Homo sapiens: one gene and its partners. The protein of the gene in region 5 purifies or fractionates together with the protein of the main gene of each other region. This does not show direct contact. Each region holds a gene or a part of one and is shown on either strand. Other genes may lie near its edges.

Region 1 (3,500 bases), on a different chromosome or scaffold from region 5:
AGGTAATTCCTGAGGTCCCTTCATAATACACACCTTCTATGTACATGTTTTGTTGGTTTCATGTAAATGTATATTATTCAAGTGATTGTTATTGTTCAATAAACTGTATTGTCTTAGTCTGGTGAGACTAATTTTTCATAAAATCTACTGGAAGGCCTTACAGTTCATTTAATTCACTTCCCTCAGTTTACAGAAGAAACCAAAGCCCAGAGAGGTTAAAAAATAAAAGGCAAAATTGACGGTTGAGACAGATCTGGAATCCAATTTTCCTAATTCCTTGTACTGTGGGCTTTACCTTAACAGGCCAATAAAAGAGGGAAAGCAATTAGAAAACCAAAAGATATTGTCTAGATGAATTCAAATGTATTCTCCTTTAAGCAGAAAGTCAATATATTTTAAAACTAAGGCAGAAAGCTGGATTTTGAGGGAAAAATCCCAGGAAAAGAGTACATTTACAGAGAAAACTATTTGTTTCTCTCCCGTTTTTTCTAACATCAACGTGTTTTCTTGCTTGCATTATAAATGCAGCCATTTATAATTCATTCATTCACACCTACTGAAATCACAAACTCTTGCCCCAGAATGGTCTTGTTTGACTTCCAAACCAGAAAGCCAGGATTAACTCCAGGTATTCAAGTGGGACAGAAGGAGGTTCAATACATCAGAGGATTACTTTCATTTGAGTTGGCACCCACGCTATCAGGCTTTCAATTTCACTAGGCAGCATGGGGCTTATTTACTTTCTAATTGACAGTTTGAGGTCTTGTTGTTTCTTACCTGGAGTTCAGCCTGCTGTCCATCAAGAGTGCCCTTCACAGCCTCAACATCTGGCCACTTCCCCTCCTCCCAAGGAGACTGTGGACAGTGTAAAACATCAGCCCTGTTTTATACTGATGCTTGATGACATCACAATGAGATACAACATCAGTCACGCCTGAGGCCCACAGCAAGTCCCAGAGGATCCAGGTGAAAAGGACCTTATTTCTGCAGAGATCTTGAGGCCAAAATGGTGTGTTTTAGGCCAGAATTAGGATATGAGAAGAAGTAAAAGTGTCCACTGTATCCATGTGTCCATGCCCACTGTAAAAGTCCCATAGTTGGGCATGAGTCAAGGTGAAATGAGTATATAAGCAATGAGGCCCTGGAACCTTACCCATGAAAAAGACCTTTACTACCTCTTACATGCTAGCTCCTCATGCTGTAGTCTAATACATTTTGCCCTCTCACGATTGACACTAAAAGGTATTAGAGACAGAAATGGGGGTAGTGAGGGCTAACAATGGAGACCTAAAAGAGCCAAGGCTTTGGCTTCACAGTTCTCTGTAAGAAGTAAAGTACCTAGGGGTAGACAGCAGCAGCCAGACACATACATGGAGGGGCTTTCTGTTAAGGGGAAGTCCACACAGTCACACTGTCCTTGTAAAGAAAAAAAGAAAGAAGTGTTTTCCTGAAACTGCTTATCTAATCATATAGGAAGGGCTACAACTTGATTCCACTTTCCATAAAAGAATAACTCTTTTAAAAATCAAAGCTGAACAGTGGCCAAAGCCTGGCCCATGATCCTGTGTGGCTTGTACACTTTTCAAAGAAAGAATATTATCAATTTAGACGTCAAAGCAATGGAGATCCAGAAAAAGCCCCGGATGTACAATGGGCCACATCTTTGGGTGGAGGTGGGGAGGAGGTGATTTTTTTAAGGAAATCCATCCCAGTGTTCCCTTAAGGGGCGCTTGTTAATTTTTTACCCACCTGCACTTTGTGCTTGGGTTCATGGTAGACTGCCCTGCTTTCTCCCAAGGTCCTCTCTGCCTGCCCCCAGGGTGACGCTAGAGGCTGATGGGTGGAGTCATAATTGCACATTAATTATAAGACCTCTGTGAGATAGTTTGGTTTGTGGTTTCTAAGGTTAAGGGGCCTTCAGGAGCCCGATGGATATTGGAAATATGGGAAATGGCTGGGAGGGGCTGGTAAGTAGTGGTAAGCTCATAACAGATATGGGGACTGCAGGGAACGGAAAAGTCAACGCAAACAAGGCATTCGAACTGTTGAAACAAACAAACAAAATACTGGGCAGGCCGACTGAAATACATCCACTGGCCAAATCTGACCCAGAGGCCTGCGGTTAGTAAACTCGAATTCATCCTTTTCTAATACAAAAAAAGGACACCGAGGCCTCAATAGAGGGAGCCATTTTCCCAAGGTCACACAATTTACAGTCAGACCTGGAATTCAGACCTTCTGATTCCCACTGAATATATTAAGATGGCACTCACAGTGCTTCTTAAGATGAGAAAGATGATTCCTGGGCAACCTTCTCCTTTTGGGACCATTCCATTCCCTGCTCCAGCCCAACCTTTCTCCTGCCAATTGTTGCTATTTATTGGCATGATGCTTCCCATGCTGAGTATGTTCACCACATGATGCCCTCAATATTTGCCAGCTGCAATTGTAGGCCCCTCAGTTCTTTGCAGAGCAACCTTTCCCTTCCTACTGTGCCAAGTTCCTATTCACACAAGGCCGTGCAGCTGGGAACCAGATTTGTCCTAAAAGACTTTTTCCTCAGCTTAGTGACACTGCTCTCTAACTAGAAGCATGGAGTATAAACAAGAAGGGTTGAAAGAATTCAGTCTGCTTTCTGTTTGAATCTGAGTTGGAGTTAGCTTCCAGAGCTGCTTTTGCAGATTCCTTCTGGGAAGGTGGAGGACATGGACATCCACAGCAAACCACCCATTCTTTCCTTTCCAGCTTCTTGCTTTCTTGTACTGCTGATAGAGGGGCTAGCCATAGGATAGGGAAGGGGTGTGCAGGTATAAGGTGGCAATGGTCACAAGCTCAGAATTTTATTTGGACTGTATTGTGGTGCAGGGATGGCATGTGGAAGGAATGGGATACCAAAAGAAAGACTCTCTTGCTTCCAAACCAACTCTCTTACCAACCCTCCATTTGCCTGGGTATCTGCCATTTGAGTTGCTCCTTTTGGAAGAAGGCATGGAAGGTCCCATTCAATGCATTCTTTAGAAGAGAATAAAATAAGCTTTCGCTAGTCCCTAACACCTTACCATGAGATTAATTTATCAGATTTAGCAGAAAGTGAATGGGACACAATACATAAATTTGATGGTGGGGTGGGGAAGAACTTGCAGTATTTCTCAGTAGGGGTGACACTGGCATTTTGGGCAGACAACTCTTTATTGTGTGGCTCTGTCCTGTGTATTTCAGGTTGTAAAACCTGAGAAGCCAGAGAACATAAGAACACTAGGTCCTGGGAAAGAAGTTGTCTAAGTTGTTTATGAGACTGGCAAAGGGTATTTTTTCACTATGAACATTCTTGAAGAATAAGTATTGTCTGAGAGATTCATGCTAAGCAGAGTCAAGGCATGGTCTGTTCAGGGACAGGTGGGGTCTCTGTAGTGTTAGCATTAACAGACTGGATGGAAGATGAAGCCATCTGTGTGACCAGAAAGGCACCAGACCACCCCAAATTTCCATGTTAGCCTGCC
Region 2 (3,087 bases), on a different chromosome or scaffold from region 5:
ATATATAAACAGTGTGGTTGAATACATTTAATGCCAGCCATTGGAAACTAGTTTTAGGCAACCACTCTCAAAAACAGCTTTAGAATTTATGCCCAGTTTTCTTGCATTGAAAGATAACTGAGTAATAACCTGTAACTATTTTTAAATGGCATGAAATTAGGAAACTTTTGTACATTTTATATACATTTTGAGATGAACAGAACAATGGGCTGAGTTATAAAAAGCGTGTATTGAATTTAAGAAGACAGACTAGCACAAAACACAGAATTCGTGTTAACCAAAGGAGGCATTGATTTCAGTTTTAAGGCTACTCAGTGTTGTGTGTCCAGGGAAATTCACAGCTCAGTATGAGAATACCTTGGTTAGTGCTCACCCACAAGCTTCCAGGAGCCAGCTGGGAGGAGACAATAGGAAGAGATGTCATCTCTGCTCTCCCTGTAAATGTTAGTTGAACTAAGTTATGGATTTGTGGTCTTTCAAATACATGACGCCTTTAGTATGCCACACTGAAATGAATAAGAAGTCTTCTGAAACTGGGAACTTCATAACATTGAAGGCAGAAGATTCTGCTAAGGAAAAAAGCAGGCAGGAAAGAAAATGTCTCATCCTTTCTTGAAAGCATTTGCAGAAAATATATCATTTCATTTTATTCCCATCTGTTTTCAAACTCGTGATCTTAAAAGGCATTCTGATGATAAATTTAGAATTTTCATCTATAAAATTTAGAACTCTAATCCATAAAGTTAGAATTGAGCTAATAGAGTGGTATGACATGGCACTAAAAATATAAATTTTTGTTGTAAGTCAGGATTGGAGTAAGCTGGAAAAGTATGTTTAGGCAAATCTTGGAGAAAACCAACCATAAACTTACAGCTCTAAAATTCAGAAAGCCCTAAAATTTCAAACACTGTTTGAAAGAAGAGGTGGGGGCCGGGTGCCGTGGCTCATGCCTGTCATCCCAGCATTTGGGAGGCTGAGGCAGGCAGATCACCTGAGGCCAGGAGTTCGAGACCAGCCTGGCTGGCTAGCATGGTGAGACCGTCTCTACTAAAAATGCAAAAATTAACAGGGCACGGTGGCATGCGCCTGTAGTCCCAGCTACTCGGGAGGCTGAGGCAGGAGAATCACTTGAATCCAGGAGGCGAAGGTTGCAGTGAGCTGAGATTGTGCTGCTGCACTCCAGCCTGGGAGACAGAGCGAGACTCTGTCTTAAAAAAAAAAAAAGGAGGTGAATTTTTTTTTAAGTTTTGTAACACTGTCCTACTTTATTTATTAGAATCTAAGGCTGTTACAATCAAGTCGTTGCAGGGTTTGGATCAGCTGTAAGTTAGGTATGCCTACCAAACATCCAAAGGTAGACGTGGAGACATTTTAATACTACAAAACTAGGAAAATCAGAACTCATGGCCATTTCCTGCCCTCCTCCAACTTGTTAAAACATGTTTATTCTAAAGTTCGAATGGATAAATTTGAGTATAAAGGTTTTGTTATAAAACTGTTCTTTAGTGTAAGGCTGCATTGTGGGTTTGGGGGAAATGTAAATAATTTTCTGTGTAAAACAAATTCATAGGATCTGATTTGCTCAGAGTATTATTCAAGAATGTATTAATAAGGCATTGCCCCCTGTTTGCACTCAGGGTTAATATGTCAAATGAAATTTAAGAAGGAAATGGAAGAATTCAGGTACATTAATTGCATATTATTTTGGGAAAGATGAGTCCTATACGTGGCAATTTTTCAATGTCATCTGAAGCCAGCATTATCTTCCAAAGAAATCGATCTTTTTTTTCTAAAAAAAAAAAATGCTTTTGCCTTCCCTTCCCTTCCCATCCGCCATATTTCTTCAGCCTTTCTTCTCGATCACCCGTGTATTCTTTGACCAGTAAATGACCACACCTCAATGATGGTAAAACAGCATCATCAGTAAGCTATCTTATATGCCTCATCCTGTGAGTTTGAGCTTCAGGAAACATGAGTAAAAGTATATGTAATGTATATAGTCGTATATGTATTCTAGCAAGAAAAACATATTTATTTTGACAAAGGGGAACACTGACTTTCTGAAGGATTCAGAAAGAACCTTAGTGAAAGGTTCTCAGTCTCTGAGAGTGGACCCTAATTAACATAAAGACCATTCATCAGCGAATAACTACTGAGCAACTCTAGTGTGCCAGCACAGGCCAGACATACTAGTGAGCCAGGCACATCTGGCCTTGGGAAACTCATCCTACAGGGGAAGGCCAGTTTTTTTCCCTTCAATTCCTCAAGTCTGGGTGGTGACAAGGTAGGGGCTAGGTACTGGACTACCACAGGTTTTTAGGAACTAAGGTGTTTCTCATAAACACAAAATGTTGGGTGAAACTGGGAACAACTACTCAGAAGCTCATTTATTTGCTTAAATGGAAAGTGTGGGAGCCACTACCCTCTCTTTTGATCTGCCAAGGATTTCCTCTCAGAGCTGTTGCACAGACAGAGATTGTACTTGGTAAGATACCAAACAAGACAGATATGGATCTAAATTTCTAATGTGTTCTATGGGTTTCAATTCTGAAAAAAGAAAATGAATAAAGATTTTAATAAATATTGATATCTGATCTTTTCCTCTTCTTTCCCCCTTCAGGATATTTCCAGTGGTTCCTATTTCAGTTCCCTTCCTGTTAGGGGACAGAAGAAGATTACATCTTTTGTGACCACTTAAACTTCCACAGGGATAGTTTCACAGTACCTGGTGGATTAGACCTTTAAATTTCCTCACCAGTCTTCAAACGGTTCATACTAGATTGTAACTATACCAAAATTTTCTATGGGATCATTGTTAGGTGCTTTTTGTATATTTAATAGTTAACTCCATTTTTGCAGCTTCCTTAGAGGTAAAGAATTATGAATCCTGAAGAACTTGTCAGCACACTACAAAAAAGGCAGGAAGAGAAGGCCAGTTGCCCTAGTAGTACTTCTTAGGACACCTAGATTTTTAACTTTTGAAATAGAATCCAGCATCATAAACCTCAACCAGGTAACTGAGCAAAGCTCTTAAGATTTTTATTGGGCCAGGCACCATGGCTCATGTCTGTAATCCCGGCACTTTGG
Region 3 (3,500 bases), on a different chromosome or scaffold from region 5:
TGGCTTGGGGTGCGGAGGAAGGCCCAGGGGAGACTGAAGGTGTTCTTGGGGAGAGGCCCCCAGGGCCAGGCCCTGACTAGAAAAGGGAACCTGGCAGGCAGAAAAAGGGGCACACAGGAGGGAAATGCAGTGACGTATTGGAGAAGGGAGCAGCCCAGGTGGCCTGGGGAGGGCAAGGCCTGAGCCCTGGGTGGCAAACACCAGCTGTAGCCGGTGAGGGAGGGCCTTCCACGCCAGGCAAGGAGTCTAGCCTTTGTCTTCACGTCAGCATAGAGACTTTAGGTCGGGAGTGATATGGAAGATCCGCCTTGGAAACATGACTAGGATGGGGAAACATCACAGGATCGGCCGCAGGGCTGGGGTCGCCCCGTGGAGAGGGGAGGGTGGCATGGGCCCAGGTCCCATCAGGGCTCCCTGCTATGTCTGGGCTTTTTTGACAGGGGCCTCTCCAGGGTGAGTGGTGTGGCTGAGAGGGTAAACACAGAGCTGGGTCTTTCTGAGCCTTAGTTTCCTCACCTGTAAAACCGTGCCTATTCCCCAGGGCTGCCCAAGAGCCCGTGAGATGCGTCCTAGGTGCCCTTTGTGGTGCCTGTCCCTGCTGATGGCACATTCCCAGGGGCTGCCTGTGCTTGGCACGTGGCACTGCCCAGGAAATGTCCCTCAGAGGACTGACTGGCAGCCCTGAGCCCGAGGCTGGTCCGTCTGGCAGGACCTCCTCGGAGGACGCCAGCTCCCCCTTTAGCCTGAAGGGGCCGATCCTGCAGGCCCCATGTCTCCCAGCAGGGCCCGGGACTCACATTTTCCACATTGATGTTGGCCTTCGCGCTGGTCTCCATGAACTTGATTCCATAGTCGAGGGCCAGCTGTGAGAGAGGGAGGCACACGCATGAGCACACCAGCCGCCGGGCGCATCTGAGCTTGCCTAAAACAGGAGCTGAAGGCAGGGCCGGCGCCAAGAGGGAGCAGCAACAGGGCTGGGGCTGTGGGCGTGACTTCCTGGATCACTCCCTCAATTCTATAGTGAATGCCCCTCCACAGGGCCTCACAGGGCATGGAGTTGCTGGGGATGGCAGCTGAGATGGGAGGGTGGCGGGGACCTGCTGGGATCAAACTATGGCTCTGTTCCCCGCTCCTGTGGTCTTGAAAGTCTGGAGCGGGGCCATGGTAGGTTTTGATGAGATGCCCGCAGAGTGCACCCAAGAAGCCCCGGCTGGGTGTGTGCTTCTGTCATCCCATGGCACGTGCCCCACTGGGGTGACCAACTCGTCTCAGGCCCCTGGGGCAGAGGAGGGACAGGGGAAGGCCTCTGCACAAGAACCCCAAGACCCCGAGGCCCTCTGCCCCTTGTGCCACCATGCCCACCTTTTCTCCCCGTTCCTTGGAAACTTGTCTCTTGTCATTCACATCACACTTGTTCCCGAGTATCATCTTTTCGACGTCTGCAGAGGCGTGCTGAGAGGGAGGGGGACAGACGGGGGATCAGACCGGATGACACAGGCCAGGTGCCTCTGCCAACACACAGTCTGTCCCCAGAAATCAGAGCGGTGGGGTCAGGACTGCTAGGTACAGCCTGGTCTAAGGGACAAGCTGAAGCTCAGAGAGGCCAAGCAGCCGGCCCCATGTCACACAGCCAATGCCAGGGCTGGGGCCAGGGTTCTAGCTGCTACTCTGAGCAAATGCACATTTTCTGAAATGCTTTCTGGCAGCTTCTATGGCTGTATCAATCAAGCCCCCGCACCTGGGATGCTGGGCGGGTCTAGCCTATGGGAGGTGAGTGAGGCTGAGATATTTACCCCCCGACCTTGGCTTTCCTCCTTCCCTCCCTGGCTCCTCTGCAAGAGGCCCCAGCTGTTGTCCTGGGACCTTCTGCTTTGACACTTTTTTTTTTGTTTTTTTTTGAGATGGAGTCTCGTTCTGTCTCCCAGGCTGGAGTGTAGTGGCATGATCTCGGCTCACTGCAACCTCTGCCTTCAGGTTCAAGCGATCCTCAACCTCCCGAATAGCTGAGATTACAGGCATCTGCCACCATACCAGGCTAATTTTTTGTATTTTTAGTAGAGACAGAGTTTCGCCATGTTGGCTAGGCTGGTCTCAAACTTCTGACCTCAGGTGATCTGCCCGCCTCAGCCTCCCAAACTGCTGGGATTACAGGCATAAGCCACCTCGCCTGGCCCTGACATTTCAACTATTTTTGGGCTCCAGAAACAGGCCGTGCCTGAGGTGGTCGCAACTCGAGGCCGTCACCAGCTGCAGGCACTTCACCACCCTGTCTGATGTTGCCCAAACTCTGCCCTCATACCCAAAGGCAGCTCCTTCGTCAAGTCTCCCTGGGTCCCCATGGAGCGGACCACGCTTCCTGGAGGACGGGGACACTGGAAACTGCTGTCTTCTTCCACCAGCTCAGACTTGGTCTCTGGAACCTACTGCGCCACTCCCTGCCTCACTTCCCATGAACCAGAAGGTGGCTCCTGCCCGCTGGCCAGAAACAGAGACCTTTCACAAAGACCAGGCTCTCCTCCTCTCCACGGATGAAGACAGCTTTCCCAGCTGGGGTGCAGCCCTGCACTGGCAAATTTGGCAGCACAGCCCTCTCAGGGTCACTGGGGAGGTGAGCCCAGTGCAATGACTCACAAATGATGGGGTGGCCTCTCGGCCTGGCCTGGGAGGTCCATGAGTCCTGGGTGGACAGTGATATGCCCTTTTGCTGTGGTTTTATAGATGGGAAAAGTTCTCTGGCTGTGCCTCAGACCTGAAGCCCCACATGGTTAGTTATAGAAAGCTGCAGGTGCCGGCAGCCAGGAAGGCTTTGGGGGTGAGGTCAGCTCTTTGGGGAGCAGAAGATGAAGATGCTGGCTTTGGGAGGGGAGGAGGGGTTGGCCTACTTCTCACTGCTCTATGGTTCAAGGTCTGAACACAGGTCGTTTGTACCAGGTCACACCCTGCTCCGATATAGCTCAAAGTACAACTGACGCCTGCTCACCACACCCTCCAACTACAAGGGTCACACCTGTGCTAGACCCTTCCTTCTCTAGAAAGCACCCAACACTCATGGTGACCACAAGCTTGGATATCCTTTCTCTTATAACCATGACACTGGCCAGATCCAACAGCCTAGCTGGAGGGATGGGCTCCGAGGGGCTCCGGGGTGGGGCCAGGCCAGTGTGTGGTCCCTGGGGCCGGCTGCTTGCATCTCAGTCCCTGCTCCCACCATGTCCCTGACTAGGAGGCTGTGGGCAAGTGGCCTGTATGTGTCTCTGCACCTTGGCCTTCTCATGAGTAAACCAGAGGGCTCTGGGACAAGGACTGAAGCAGGGACAGTGGGAGGAGCCGGAGGGCCTCACCTCCTCAATGTTGCGAATCCAGTTCCGGATGTTGTCGAAGGACTTCTCGTTGGTGATGTCGTAGACCAGCATGATGCCCTGCGCGGGGAGAGAAGACACAGGTGCCTGATCGGCTGCAGGCTCTGGAAGGGAGGCCTCAGCGGCACCAGAGAACAGTGG
Region 4 (3,500 bases), on a different chromosome or scaffold from region 5:
TACTGCAGGAAGACCAGGCTCAGCTTGCAGCCCACCTGGAAACCGCAAACAGAGGAGAGGAAAGCATGACCTCATCCGGTAACAGCAGCTACCAGCAGGCAGTGCCGCTCCAGGACACAGGGCGCTTGGTATCTGTGCAAGGAAGGAGACACCGGTGCCATTGGGAAGGAAAGTGATTAACACAGAGGCCAGGGCGCTGGCCAGGAATGCCTGCTGGTGGCACTGGGACCTTTGTATCCGCGGCTCCAGAGGAGGATCACTGCAAACGCAACTGTGAACAGCACTGCCTGAGGTGAGCGCACTCACTGCTGGAGGGTCCTAGACAGGCCGCACAGCTCCCTGGCCCTCCCGTTCTCAGCTCCTCCCCTCGGCTACTCCACTTCCCCTTCTCTGACCTGCTTCAACACGGGAACCCCCGCAGTGGTCCTGCCGGCCAGCAAAGAACCAGAAGAGCCGGCAGGAGGTCATGTGTGGGGCGAGGTATGGGTGGCAGGGGCCCTGCAGGGGCCCAGGGCTCTGGCCTCTGTCCCTTTGTGTGAACAGAACACGAGTGCAGGTAGAGGGCGCGGCACATGCCAGCTGCCCTCACTAGCAGCTCAGGTGAGCAGCGCCTGGGAAGAGAAAGCAGTGGACCCACACCAGGCCCCAGACTTTTTTTTTAAATTTTTGACAACTATGTAAGTTCCTCAATTGTAAAAAACTGGTTTTAATATTGGGTAACTTAACTAAACATGAAAAAATAAAGGGGAAAACAAGAGAAATCTAGCAAATAAAATATTTTCTGAGGACATTTTAAAAGGATTTTCACTGGGAAAGAATTGCATTATTATATAAAATCCATCTATTTTAATCTCTCAGACCTTCATCTAACTAAATGTACCAGGCATTTCAGCTTCATGAGCAACCATGAAACTGCTACTTTTAATCACTAAGCTTATATAAAGTGTGCTGAAAAAGAATAGTATTTTCATTTCCATTCTTATTTCTGTATTTATGTTCATATCTATAGACATATGTAGGTGGGTGTACATACGTATGGCAGATATATATCTGATACATATATCAGATGGATACACCTATACATATTTGTGGGTGGATATACTTACATATGTATGGGTGGATATACTACCTACATATAACAGATGGCTATCCCTATAAATATATACGGGTGAATATACTTTTTTATATATGGGTGGGTATACTTATATATATGGGTGGATACACTTATATATGGGTGGATATACTTTCATATGGTGGCCTTTCAATTTGGCCTCCGGGGTCCTGAGAGCCGCTGAGCCCTGCAGGCTGTCCCTGGCCTCCCCTGAGCCCTGCAGGCTGCCCCGACCTCCCCTGAGCCCTGCAGGCGGCCCCGACCTCCCCAGTGCTCTGGATCTGCCTTGCCTTCCTCTGCTTTTCCTTTTTCCCAAGCATAGCAGGGTGGGTGCTTCATTTTCTGAGACACTGCACAGGTGAGAGTTACCCTTATTGTCCATCTTTGCCACCAGAGTAAGGCGAGTGCCTGCACGCGGATCTCGTGTGTCAACGCCTGGTGAATGGACACTCAGATCCCAGCAAGTTCTGCCCTGGGCATCAGGACAGAGCCTCTTATGTGGAAAGACACACATGATAACACAGCCATGGATGCAGGAGAGTCACAGTAAGTCAATTTGTGACTTACTGCCACTCATTTGAAAAGTAAAGTGAAATAAATCAAGTTTTAAAATCTCTGGGAGGTGAGATTCTGGGAGTTAGTCACCCATCGGGATGCAACGTGCCTTCTTTTGTCTCTCGGTAAAAGACCGCATCTTAAACACAAGGAGTAAACTGCAGATGAACCAAGACACAAATGAACAATCTCAGAATAGAAACCTCTTAACCAAGACGGGAAATCTGAAATGAAAACAAGAAGTGCTAAAAGGATGGAAAGCAATTTTGGTTATATAAACTTTAAAAGCTTTTAGATGGTAAAAATACCATAAAAATACAATTGACAAATCATGAATCTGGAAACATATTTACAATAGAAATGACAAATGTTTAATTTTTATGACGCCAATATTACAGATGAATGCGGTGTTTTAGAGGGCCGGAACAGCTTGTGGAAAGATGCCAGTTCTCAGCAGGTGCGCTGCCCTGGAGTGTGCATGAGAGCCACAGAGGCAGTGCCAACGCCCACCAGACAGGCAAAATGGTAAAACCAGTCAGGTCTTTGGGCTCTGGTGTGATCCCACGTGCAGCTGTCAGCTGTCTCAGCCTTTTGGAAGGCAATCTAGCAAAACAGATTTACTACAATTTAAAAATACACATGCAGCCGGGTGCAGTGGCTCACACCTGTAATCCCAGCACTTTGGGAGGCCAAGGCGGGGGGATCACTTGAGGTCAGGGGTTCGAGACCAGCCTGGCCAACATAGTGAAACCCCATCTCTACTAAAAATACACACACACACACACACACACAAAATTAGCTGGGTGTGGTGACACCTGCCTGTGATCCCAGCTACTCAGAAGGCTGAGACATGAGAATCGCCTGAACCTGGGAGGTGGAGGTTGCAGTGAGCCGAGATCCTGCCACTGCACTCCAGCCTGGAAAACAGAGTGAGTCTGTGTCAAAAAACAAAACAAAACAAAACAAAAAATAAAAATATGCATGCCCTTTGCAATGGGCTGGAGGCTTCTTTATGCTGCCAGAATTCACATGTTGAAGCCCCACCCGCTGTGGGAGGGTGTTAGTGGGTGGCGCTTTGCGATGGGATTAGTGCCCCTGTAAAGGGACCCCAGCAACATCCCTCGCCCCTTCCACCACGTGAGGACACAGAGAAGTCAGACCCGAATCTGGTGGTGCCTCGGTCTCAGGCCTCCAGAACTGAGAAGTAAATGTCTGCGACAGGAGCACACGTGGATGGAGACACCCTCTGACCTGGCAACCTCACTGGCGAGTTCCACCTGACAGAAATAAGAACACCAGTCCATAAAGACGCATGTCCGGTGATGCCTGCAGCGGCAAAAGAGAAAAATAAAGTGCAGAGCAGGCCCCATACCAGAGGATGGGCTACGCGGAGAACACCATGCCACATGAGGGACCGTGTGCCGCCTGAAAGCAGGCGCCGACCTGGTGGGGCCCTGGCACATTCTGCTGAAGGAGCAAAGAGGACGCAGGAAGAGTGTGCTGAAGACGATTCCATTTTCTTCTTAAATGGGAACAAAAACATCTCTGCATTTTTTCCCATGTGCCCATTCACCAAACAAGCACACTGAGGAAGGGAGGTCTGGGGAATGACAAGGCCTCTACTGACTTCATTTTCTACAGTGTGACCTTCAAACCTCATTACACAGGCTCCAGAGCACCACAGGAGGGGCCCAACTCCAGGGCCAGTTGCCACCCACAGGGTTGATGTGAGGAACCCCGGCCAGGAGACCCACCAAGGCCCGGTGCCCAGTCAACAGCTGGTCCCTCCTCAGCCCCGTGGCCTTGTCGGGGAGCCTCTGTGTGAGCACGTGAG
Region 5 (3,500 bases):
TCGAGAAAAAAAAAAATGAAAGAAACTATGGAACTTTTTATATTACTAGTGTTCTGCTCGATAGTTTTAAAACATTATTTTTTAATTGACAAATATCTACTTTACTTTTTTTTTTTTTTTTGACACGGAGTCTTGCTGTGTCGCCCAGGCTGGAGTGCAGTGGCGTAATCTTGGCTCACTGCAACCTCCGTCTCCCAGGTTCAAGTGATTCTCCTGCTTCAGCCTCCTTAATGGCTGGGATTACAGGTGTCTGCCACCACGCCCAGCTAATTTTTGTGTTTTTAGTAGAGATGGGGTTTCACCACGTTGGCCAGGCTGGTCTCGAACTCCAGACCTCAGGTGATCAGCCCATCTCGGCCTCCCAAAGTGCTGCGATTACAGGAGTGAGTTACCACGCCCGGCTTACATTTCAATCATGTTATGTTAGGTCATTTCAACATGTGGTTTAAGAACAAGATTTGATCAATAATATAACAATCTGGATTAAAAGAACTCTTCACAGAAAATTCTAATGATAGTCAACATTTGATAATTTGCCCAAATATAATGAAGTTATTAATGTCTTCAGTTTTAACAGAAGTATTTAACAAAAATACTCACCCTCCTGTGCCAATGGATCTCTTTTGATGGTTTTTCGAATCATAATAGCGCTGTAGGATCATAGCACTTCTGCTTTTCAAATATCCAGTCTCCACCTCAATATAGTTCTCCAAATAGGAAATGAAAATGGATTTGATAAGCTTAGACAAGAAAGTCTGTTTATCAGTACCTAAATTAAACTCCATCAGCTTGCTGGAAAGATTGGTGGTTCTTTTCATGAAAAAGGGGGAGAAAAAGATTAATATACATTTTAGGTATAGTAACAATATTAAGGAATACAAATTTTTACAACGTGACTTTCATGACTTATGTTAAGCCACCATTTCTTAAACTCTGGGAGAGTACTTATGATGCAGAGATCAACTCTACAGGGTTACATATAAATACAGTGAAATATTACGAACAACTTTACGGTTTTGAGAACTGTTATAAATTCCTAGGAAAAGAACTTGTGAGGCAATTAACTAGTCCAGAAATGGCGACAGTGGCAGATTGGCCTCAAGTATGTCTAATGCCATTCATCACATGGGACCCAAAACAGAGTACTGAAAGATCTACTGTCTGTTCACCCTCTTTTGTTTTGTCCTTGTGGACTTTCCCTCTAATTTTCTATTTCCCATTGCTGAAGATAGGGTCATAACAGTGTTGTTGTTGAGATGGACTTCCTCATTACGGTAACTTTGGAAAAACCTTCTCCCAAAATGAAGACACTGAAGAAGAGTAATAGGGTTGGGAAAAGTCAAGGAAAAAAAAAACCCCACAAGACTCCATATGAAGCTTCTGAGACAATCTCTAAGAGTAACACTGACATTTACAAAAGCACAAGACAAATTCCTACAGAAGATTTAGAGCTGAAATTGTCATTTGTTAAGATTACATCACTTCCTTTTGCAGTTTCTAAAGTTTTGACTGCAGATAAATGTAATTACACTAATGCTTAGAGAAAAAATAAAGCATAACATCCAATTCCTGACGTTAATGTATTAAGAATGTTGTACAATACAGTCTTGTACAATATAACTAGTCTATACAGCTAAGCATTTAATGCTAAAAGGTAAACTGGTGACAAACTTATTCAAAAATACCTGAATACTTCCTTGTTTTTATCAAAAAAATTTAAAAAATCTGTTATCTATTATTTTCTAATCATTAAAAATTTACCTTGTATACAGATCATAGAGATTTTTGAGATATTGCTCTGCATCGGACTTCCTACATTCTTCTAACTGCTCTTTCACAAAACTCTAAAAGAAAAAGGTTAACATTCTGTTAATTAGGTAAATATTAAATTCTACAACTTCTCAAGATATTTTTCTTTTAAAATTCACTCCACAGTTTTGAACCTTTCTGACTTACAATCCAATCAAAAAGGCAATTACAGAAAACAAACCAATCATAAAATATTTTAAAACAGGTTTTTACATTTTACCACTTCTCATATTTACCTGTAGAGGATCTTTATCAGTCTTAGGAATAATACCTTTTCTGTTAAATTGGCCTATTCTGCTCTGTGAGGTGCATCAAAAAAACAAAACTGAGAGTACAAACAATAGAGTCAATTCCTTAAGGCAGCATCTCCCAAACTGAGTTCCAGGTAACACTAGTGTTCCTTCAGATGTCTATAGGCATTACTCCAAAACAGGGTTTCTTAGACAGTAAATGTGTGAAATGCTGTACATTACATCCCCACTTCTAGAGAATGACAATACTATCAAAATTCCTGAATTGTGTTAAAAAAAAAAAAAAGCAAACATTTATTGAATGTTGTTTAATCCAGTTGTAAACAGCTTAGGAAATGTTATCTGAAAGTACAGTGATATGGGGGTAAATTAAATTTCTGTGTTTTCCCTTTTCAGGTTAGTACCATATTATTAAAAATTCTACAGACTGCTCTTGTAATTCTTGTTCAGTTTCACAAATGACATCTATTGGTGAAGGCAGGGACCAAAAAAAAAGAAAAATCTTCAAGGCTATCTTACCACAATATATTATACTACTACTACGAATACTACACAAATTTCAAGCATGTTCTCTGATGATACTTATTGATTAGCACTTTCTTCTTGGTGAATACAAAACATTTTTTAAAAAGCATGAGGATTCCTTTCTCCTTAACTAGATTACTATTTCTAAGGTCATTACATAAGTAAACTAAATTTTAAAAATACTTTTAAAATATAGGGAAAAAATTACATATTGCTTTAAGAACTATTTAATTTGTTACTATTTAAAATTACCTGTAGTTTGATTTCAAATACATTTTGAATAAGTTTAGCCAGGACTGTTTCTGGATTACTGAAGATATCTCCAACTTGTTTGTTCACTCTTTGACAGAGTATTCCAGCGTCTTCAAATATATCATTTCTCAAATAAGCACCCTAAACAGCAGAGACATTTTATACAGTGAACATATAATTTCTACATGATTTTAAAACAACAATTAGCATAAAATAATATCCAACAAAGTGTACTGTTATGTTACCTCCTGGCACTGCTTTATATAAACATCAACACAATGGGAATAACCCTACAAGGAAGAAACACATTGTTATTATTCTGATTCAATTATAATAATTATTATTTCAAAAAAAGAAGTGTTATATGTCATAAAGCTATGACTATTTACCAGTAAATGGCCAATAGCAACACCTGTTGGACTTAAATAAAATTAACTGCAGAAAACCAGTAACTTGATAAAGGTATCGTCTCCCTAGTCACTTTCTATGATAAAATTTATCAGTTGGTACATATCCTTGTTGAACTTTAGACTAAAACAAGAAAGATGAAGTATGTAACTGAGTTCTTTAGAGTAATTTTTGTCCTATGATCATCTAGCCATCTCCTTCAACTCCAAAACACACCCACTCACACCCACCCACACACATACACACAAACACACA
Region 6 (3,500 bases), on a different chromosome or scaffold from region 5:
GCCACCATGCCTGGCTAATTTTAAATTTTATTTTTCATTAAGGAAGAGTGGAAATACATTCTTAGCATAAAGGATTCAAGCAATACTCAAGCATTTATAGTAAAATCTGAAAGTCCCTGCCTTGTCCCTCCCACCAGACACTGGGGTTTGCATCTCAGCGGTCAGTTCGCAACTGAACCAACCCCCTTCTCAAATGCCCTGCAGCATAATTGACCTTTGTGCATCTTGGCTTAGATGTGTAAAAAATGCTTATCTGTTGAGGGAGAAAAAAATTCAACATTGTGATGGTCGTTGAAATTAATCTGTTTGTGTCATAAGATTTGTTGCAAACAGGCTTGTAGAAACAGAAGGAAAATAATGTCTGGAGACTGTCCAGGGAAAAACTGAGCCAGCCAGGCCACATTTATATGTGGGAAGTTGTAGAATGAAAGGCATTAGTCACAGAGACTGAATGACTCCAGGAGTCAATGGGTAAAGCCCCCCTCCATGAGCAAGGTGGTGAGCGCCACAGAAAATTGTCATAGGTAGAACACAGCTGGCTCTGCCACCTGCATTTTAGCAACCATCTGTCAATGAAAATACTCTATAAAATATTTCAAGAGATTTATTCGGAACCAAATATGAGTGACCAAAGGCCCATGACACAGCCTCGGGAGCTCCTGAGAACATGTGTCCAAGGTGGTCGGGCTACAGCTTGGTTTTATACGTTTTAGGGAGACATGAGATATCAATCAATACATGTGAGACGTACATTGGTGTGGTCTGGAAAAGTAGGGCAGCTGAAAGCCGGGGCTTCCAGGTCATAGACACATTTAAAGATTTTTCTGGCCAGGTGCTGTGGCTCACGTCTGTAATTTCAGCATTTTGGGAGGCTGAGGTGGTCGGATTGCATCGAGCTGAGGAGTTTGGGACCAGCCTGGCCAACATGGCAAAACCCATCTCTACAAAAAATACAAAAATTAGGCCACGTGTGGTGGCTCACACCTGTAATCCCAGCACTTTGGGAGCCCAGGCAGGTGGATCACCTGAGGTCAGGTGTTCGAGACCAGCCTGGCCAACATGATGAAACCCCGTCTCTACTAAAAATACAAAAATTAACCGGGCATGGTGGCAGGTGCCTGTAACTCCAGCTACTCAGGAGGCTGAGGTAGGAGAATTGCTTGAACCCGGGAGGCAGAGGTTGCAGTGAGCCAAGATTGCACCATTGCACTCCAGCCTTGGTAACAAGAGCGAAATTGCATCTCAAAAAAACAAAAAACAAAAAACAAAAATTAGCTGGGCATGGTAGTGGGTGCTTATAATCCCAGCTACTTGGGAGGCTAAGGCGGGAGAATCACTTGAATCCAGGAGGCGGAGGTTGCAGTAAGCCGAGATCATGCCACTGTACTCCAGCCTGGGCAACAGAATGAGACTCAGAAAAAAAAAAAAAAGATTTTCTGATTGAAAGAGTTATCTAAAGACCTAGAATCAATAGAAAGGAATATTTTGCTTAAGACGGGTTGTGGAGATCAAGGGTTTATCAAGGAAGCCTCCAGGTAGCAGGCTTCAGAGAAAATAGATTGTAAATATTTCTTATCAGACTTAAAAAGGTGCCAGACTCTTAGTTAATTCTCTCCTGAATCAGGGAAAAGACCTGGAAAGGGAATCTCTGTAGAATGTAGCTTTTCCCCACAAGAGATAGCTTTGCAGGGCCATTTCAAAATATGTCAGAGAAATATATTTTAGGGTAAAATACTTTGATTTCTTTCCATACTGTATTAGTTAGGCTGGAACTTGGTGTCTTATTGCTACAAAAAAGTCTTACGATGATCAGTTATGTCTGACTTCCAAAGGCAGGAAGATAAAATGAGACATATTTGACCGCCACTTCCCATCATGACCTGAAGTAGTTTTTCAGGTTACCTTTGGAATACCTTTGGCCAAGAGGAGGGGTCCTTAGTATGGATGAGGACTTAGATTTTTTTTTTTTTTTTTTTTTGAGACAGGGTCTCCCCAGCTAGAGTGCAGTGGTGTGATCTTAGCTCACTGAAACCTCTGCTTCCCGGGCTCAAGCAATTCTTCAGCCTCAGCCTCCCATGTAGCTGACTACATGGTGTGAGCCACCAACATCTGGCTAATTTTTGTATTTTTTTTAGAGACAGGGTTTTACCACGTTGCCCAGGCTGGTCTTGAACTCCTGAGCTCAAAGCGATACACCTGCCTTGGCCTCCCAAAGTGAAGAGATTACAGGCATGAGCCACCATGCCCGGCCAAGAATTTTATTTTTAGTTTACACATCCTTGCTAACTTAGTAATTCCTTGTGAAATCTTGGTAGTTCTAACTCCAATACTGTGCATCCTCAAAGGCATTTCTGTCAGGAGCTTTTCAAGTTTCTTACAGGGTTTCTGCTGAAGTGCTACACCGCTGTTTGTTATGTAAAATGTGCATAAAAACATTTACCATTGTAACCATTTTTAAATGTAGAGTTCAGTGTCATTAAGTACATTCATAATGTTGTGCAACCATCATGACTATCCATGACTTGCGATACTGAAACAAACTCCATGTTCCTCTTCCCCTCAGCCTCTAGCAACCATCATTCTACCTTCTGTTGCTGCAAATTTGACTACTCCAGGACCTCATATAAATGGAATCACAGGCTGGCCACCCTGGCTTATGCCTGTAATCCCAGCATTTTGGGAGGCTGAGGTGGGCAGATCACTTTGAGGTCAGGAGTTAGAGACCAGCCTGGCCAACATGGTGAAACCCTGTCTCCACTAAAAATACAAAAATTATCCGGGCGTGGTGGCACATGCCTGTAGTCCCAGCTGCTCAGGAGGCTGAAGCGGGAGGATTGTTTGAACCCAGGAGGTGGAGGTTGCAGTGAGCTGAGATGGTACCACTCCACTCCAGCCTGGGTGACAGAGGAAGACTCCATCTAAAAAAAAAAATTTTTTTTAAATAAATGGAATCACAGTATTTGTCTTTTGGTGACTGTCTTATTTCACTTAGCGTAATGTCCTCAAGGTATATCCATAGCATACTATGTGCCTGAATTTCTTTGTTGTCATTGTAGTGTTTTTTTGTTTGTTTGTTTTTCTTTTTGGAGACAGAGTCTCTCTCTGTCGCCCAGGCTGGAGTGCAATGGCACGAGCTCAGCTCCCTGCAACCTCCAACCTCTTGGCTCTGATGAATCATGCTGCTATGAACATGGGTGTACAGGTATCTCTTTGAGACTGTGCTTTCAGTTCTCTTGAGTGTATCCCCAGAAGTGGAACTGATGGGTCACACAGTAATTCTGTTTGATTTTCTTTTTTGAGATGAATGCTCCGTATGTTGCCCAGGCGAGTCTTGAACTCCTGGGATCAAGTGATCCTCCTGCCTTGGCCTCCCAAAATGCTGGGATTACAGGCATGAGCCACCACGCCTGGCTTCTCTGTAGGTTTGAATTGCATTTTTCCTAATGATTAGTGACATTGAGCATCTTTTCATGTATTAGTGGCCATTTGTATGTATTCTT
Region 7 (3,500 bases), on a different chromosome or scaffold from region 5:
AGAACAGCTGAGTAATCCGGTATATATATAACAGATCTCTTTTATGGGGGCTCTGAGAGCTAAGTTGTCAGGCATTCCCTATATACTTGTCTGGCTTCCAGTATTCCTTCCTAGTCATCTCATGCACATTCTCGTCCCCTTAATCTCTCACCTCCAAACATTGTAGAGGGAGGGAAGGCCTTTATTCCCATTCCTAAAATAAATAAATAAAAATCAAGTGTCATTTATCAGTTATATGGTTTAAATTATTGGATTATTTTCCCAAAAGAATTAAAATATAAACAAATATGCTTTCATTTGAAACCATAGATAGTAGTTCATGTATTTTTTTGTTTGTAGAGGTAGAGAAGGAAAAGAAGTATAAAAAGAGGTCCAGGAGGCCGGGCGCGGCGGCTCACACCTGTAATCCCAGCACTTTGGGAGGCCGAGGAGGGCGAATCATGAGGTCAGGAGTTTGAGACCATCCTGGCCAATATGATGAAACCCCGTCTCTACTAAAAATACAAAAAAATTAGCTGGGCATGGTGGCGCATGCCTGTAATCCCAGCTACTTGGGAGGCTGAGGCAGGAGAATCGCTTGAACCAAGGAGTCGGAGGTTGCAGTGAGCCCCACTGCACTTCAGCCTAGTGACAGAGTAAAACTCCGTCTCAAAAAAAAAAAAAAGAGGTCCAGGAAAGCAGGATACATTAATACATTACTTCTTACCTGTTCAGTCCAACCTGGCGACAGAGCAAGACTCCGTCTCAAAAAAAAAAAAAAAAAAAAAAAAGAGGTCCAGGAAAGCAGGATACATTACTTCTTACCTGTTCAGTCCTCCCCTTCTGCAAATGGCCCTTCTGAGACCCAGCGAGTCTTCTGCCCTTATCAGGCCGTAACTCTATACAATTTGGCCCCTATGAGTTCTTTCAGATCTGTGCATGCTTGTATTTTTGTTAACTATGATTTGGGGATGGAGCAGGAGGAGCAAGAGGATTAATTTGGAAAACTGGATTACAGAGTTCATGACCCTGTCTCTGAGACTTGTCCCACTGTGTGCTGTTATATGGTAGAATTTGTGGCAGTGCTAATGTAACTTGCACTTGATCTCACTCAGGAAGTGTGGAGTCTGTGTTTATAGAGAACTGGGGAAGAAAATCACCATTTTCCCGAACCCTTTCCCCAATATCTCTGGGCAATCCCTTTGGGTCCAGCCCAACCCAGCCCAGCAGGGACAAGTCTGTCTTAGGTTAGGTTGGGCCTGACTCTAGAAAGATTTGGTGAATTCTCTACTTTGATTATATTTTATGGTGCCCTGAGAGTTGGCTGAGCCTAATTTTACTGTTGAAACTCACTAGGCAGCTCTGCAACAGGATTCTTCTGGGGTCCTCTGGACCCAAAGTGGTTCTGGACAGCTAAGGCTACTGAGATTCTGCTTGATTTGTTCCCTGGTGATGCCAGTGCTGCCAGGTTGAGGCATATATGGGGAAGGGTGGACGTTTGGGAGGGTTGTGTGTGTGTGTGTGTGTGTGTGTTTTCAAATGATTGTGGGGAAAATCACCTTTCTATAGTCTGATCTGTTAGCGAAATAGTGTTTTCACATCATGAGGCCTTCCGTGGCCTGTTGAGTAGAGGTTATCCTAGTCTTCAGTGAGTCAGAACTTCTGTATTTTTCTGGTTCCTGGCCTTCTCTAGCTGAGAAGAACATCTGGGAGCATGACAAGGTGAGACCGTGATCACTCATTTTGTTCAGATTTCTTGTCTGCTGTTGAAATCAGCGAAACTCTTCATTACTAAATAGTAAAAAGTACTGCTTTTATGATTCTAAAACTACTTTCAGTTGTGGTTTCATTTCTGATTTTTTTCTTTATATTATTACTGCTAACTTTTTCTGTGTATTTTTAGTCTGAAGTTCTGTGAAAAATGACAACTTACTGTCTTTTTTTCTAGTAGTAAATATTTTGGAAAATTAAAATTGTGCCACAGTTTTAATTTGAGAAATTAAATATGGGAAAATTATAGAATTAAAATTTTCTGACTTCTGTTGCAGAAAACACTTTAAATCCATCCCTGTATGCTTCATTAAAGGAAAAGAGGCAGATGGTTTAAAATTAATATAGTATATCTATAAGGAAAATGTATTTACTTAAGTGTACAGTATAAATTGTAAGAAAATGTGGCCTTTTGTCTTGATTTTAGTGAAATGCTTTTGTAATAGTAATTTTCTCTTTTGACCTGTGATGGATAGGAGGTTAATTGATGTTAAATGGATGCTTTGTTAATCCTTCATCAGCTACTAAATTGGTATGGGGGAGTACAGGTCAAGACTACACAAGGCCATGACCAGCTTGTTTTCTCAGGGAGGTTTATGGATTCCACCCCTCCCCCTTCTCTAAACCACACATCACTCTCTCCAGCTGCACATAGGGAAGACTCTCCTGTCTCCCCTCCCCCTCTTCCTGCGGTCCTGTCTCCCCCTCCCTAACCTCATCCTTCTCCCTCTCTGGGCTGCTGCAGAGTGACAGCTTGTAGATGTTGCGTGCGAGGGAGTTCAGCTGGCGCTGTGTGGTCCGAGTGTGTGGTCTCCCGCTCAGCCGAGAGGCTGCTAACAGGGTGGATGAGAGAGAGAGCAACACTGTTTACTTTAATTTATTTCGGATGCCGGAATTGTGCCCAGAGTTTCTCCTGAGCTTGATTCCATAGCTAGCAGCTTCAATCCTTCGCAGCTGCGGTGCGTTCTGAACTCTGGGCTGTCCTTTCCTGACAGGCACTTTCCATAGCATCTGCCTGCTTAATCCCTCACGGCTCAGAAATGTTAACGGCACTGTTGAGTGCTGTGATTATTTTGCTTTCACTATGTCAAGATTTATGGCCTTCGAGAAGCTTCTTTTGAGATAGAGCTAGAGAAGGAAAGCAGAATTTGTAAGATCAGTGACAAAGTTGATGTATTTTTGGAAATTGGAAAAGCTATTATACAAAATTTGGGTCAAATTAATCCAACTTTGCTCATATAAAAGAACCTGGGAGTTAGCGACATCCTGTCATGTTTAACAGTTTTAATGAAATTAACCAATTTAAGCTGACGGTTGGTTTCTTGACCTTTTCTGAAACTCTGCATTGATTTTGGCATGCCTGTTTACCATAGTTATTATATTTGTCAGCGGTGATATTGGTTTATTTCATCCTAAAGATTTGACAAGTCGAGACAAATGAAACTTTGTTTTTATGTAGTAGTATAAATTTAGGAGAATATCTTTTTATCCAATCCTTTCATTATGAATAGCTTAGTAATATTTTCTTGATTTTGTTCCTCTCTCATTCCTGAACATTATTGTTGAGATGGTCAAGTATTTTGTTATTTGAATAAACATATGTAGACTCTTGATATCACTTGGGATTTTGCATTGTTTAGCTTCTTTATTTTCATGTCTTCCTGGCAGTCTTGCTGGAATGGAGTTGGTGGTGTTGATGTTTGTCAAGGATTAGAAAGTCTAGGCCACTCACATCTTCCCGCAAGGTCAGT

What was found.
Region 1: the proteins of EXOC5 (region 5) and VSIG1 purify together in Homo sapiens (co-immunoprecipitation; one large-scale study listed by IntAct). This does not show direct contact.
Region 2: the proteins of EXOC5 (region 5) and FAM20B purify together in Homo sapiens (co-immunoprecipitation; one large-scale study listed by IntAct). This does not show direct contact.
Region 3: the proteins of EXOC5 (region 5) and RAB8A purify together in Homo sapiens (affinity purification with mass spectrometry; one large-scale study listed by BioGRID and IntAct). This does not show direct contact.
Region 4: the proteins of EXOC5 (region 5) and VIPR2 purify together in Homo sapiens (co-immunoprecipitation; one large-scale study listed by IntAct). This does not show direct contact.
Region 6: the proteins of EXOC5 (region 5) and ARMC6 purify together in Homo sapiens (co-immunoprecipitation; one large-scale study listed by IntAct). This does not show direct contact.
Region 7: the proteins of EXOC5 (region 5) and EXOC2 fractionate together in Homo sapiens (co-fractionation; 4 studies listed by BioGRID and IntAct, with this or other methods). This does not show direct contact.

Annotation. Positions count from the first base shown.
Region 1 is NC_000023.11:108,062,065-108,065,564, reverse strand, and holds part of VSIG1 (V-set and immunoglobulin domain-containing protein 1 isoform 2 precursor), read right to left. Parts: intron 856-3,500; coding exon of another isoform or gene 778-855; intron 1-777.
Region 2 is NC_000001.11:179,073,981-179,077,067, forward strand, and holds the end of FAM20B (glycosaminoglycan xylosylkinase), read left to right. Parts: 3' UTR 1-2,587; downstream 2,588-3,087. UniProt on the Homo sapiens protein: Responsible for the 2-O-phosphorylation of xylose in the glycosaminoglycan-protein linkage region of proteoglycans thereby regulating the amount of mature GAG chains.
Region 3 is NC_000019.10:16,125,389-16,128,888, reverse strand, and holds part of RAB8A (ras-related protein Rab-8A), read right to left. Parts: exon of another isoform or gene 3,420-3,500; coding exon 3,342-3,419; exon of another isoform or gene 1,902-3,341; intron 1,453-1,901; coding exon 1,363-1,452; intron 864-1,362; coding exon 798-863; intron 1-797. UniProt on the Homo sapiens protein: The small GTPases Rab are key regulators of intracellular membrane trafficking, from the formation of transport vesicles to their fusion with membranes.
Region 4 is NC_000007.14:159,036,868-159,040,367, forward strand, and holds part of VIPR2 (vasoactive intestinal polypeptide receptor 2 isoform 1 precursor), read right to left. Parts: intron 36-3,500; coding exon 1-35. UniProt on the Homo sapiens protein: G protein-coupled receptor activated by the neuropeptides vasoactive intestinal peptide (VIP) and pituitary adenylate cyclase-activating polypeptide (ADCYAP1/PACAP).
Region 5 is NC_000014.9:57,230,906-57,234,405, forward strand, and holds part of EXOC5 (exocyst complex component 5), read right to left. Parts: intron 3,128-3,500; coding exon 3,083-3,127; intron 2,979-3,082; coding exon 2,838-2,978; intron 1,845-2,837; coding exon 1,762-1,844; intron 811-1,761; coding exon 601-810; intron 1-600. UniProt on the Homo sapiens protein: Component of the exocyst complex involved in the docking of exocytic vesicles with fusion sites on the plasma membrane.
Region 6 is NC_000019.10:19,047,103-19,050,602, forward strand, and holds part of ARMC6 (armadillo repeat-containing protein 6), read left to right. Parts: intron 1-3,500.
Region 7 is NC_000006.12:683,140-686,639, reverse strand, and holds part of EXOC2 (exocyst complex component 2), read left to right. Parts: intron 1-3,500. UniProt on the Homo sapiens protein: Component of the exocyst complex involved in the docking of exocytic vesicles with fusion sites on the plasma membrane.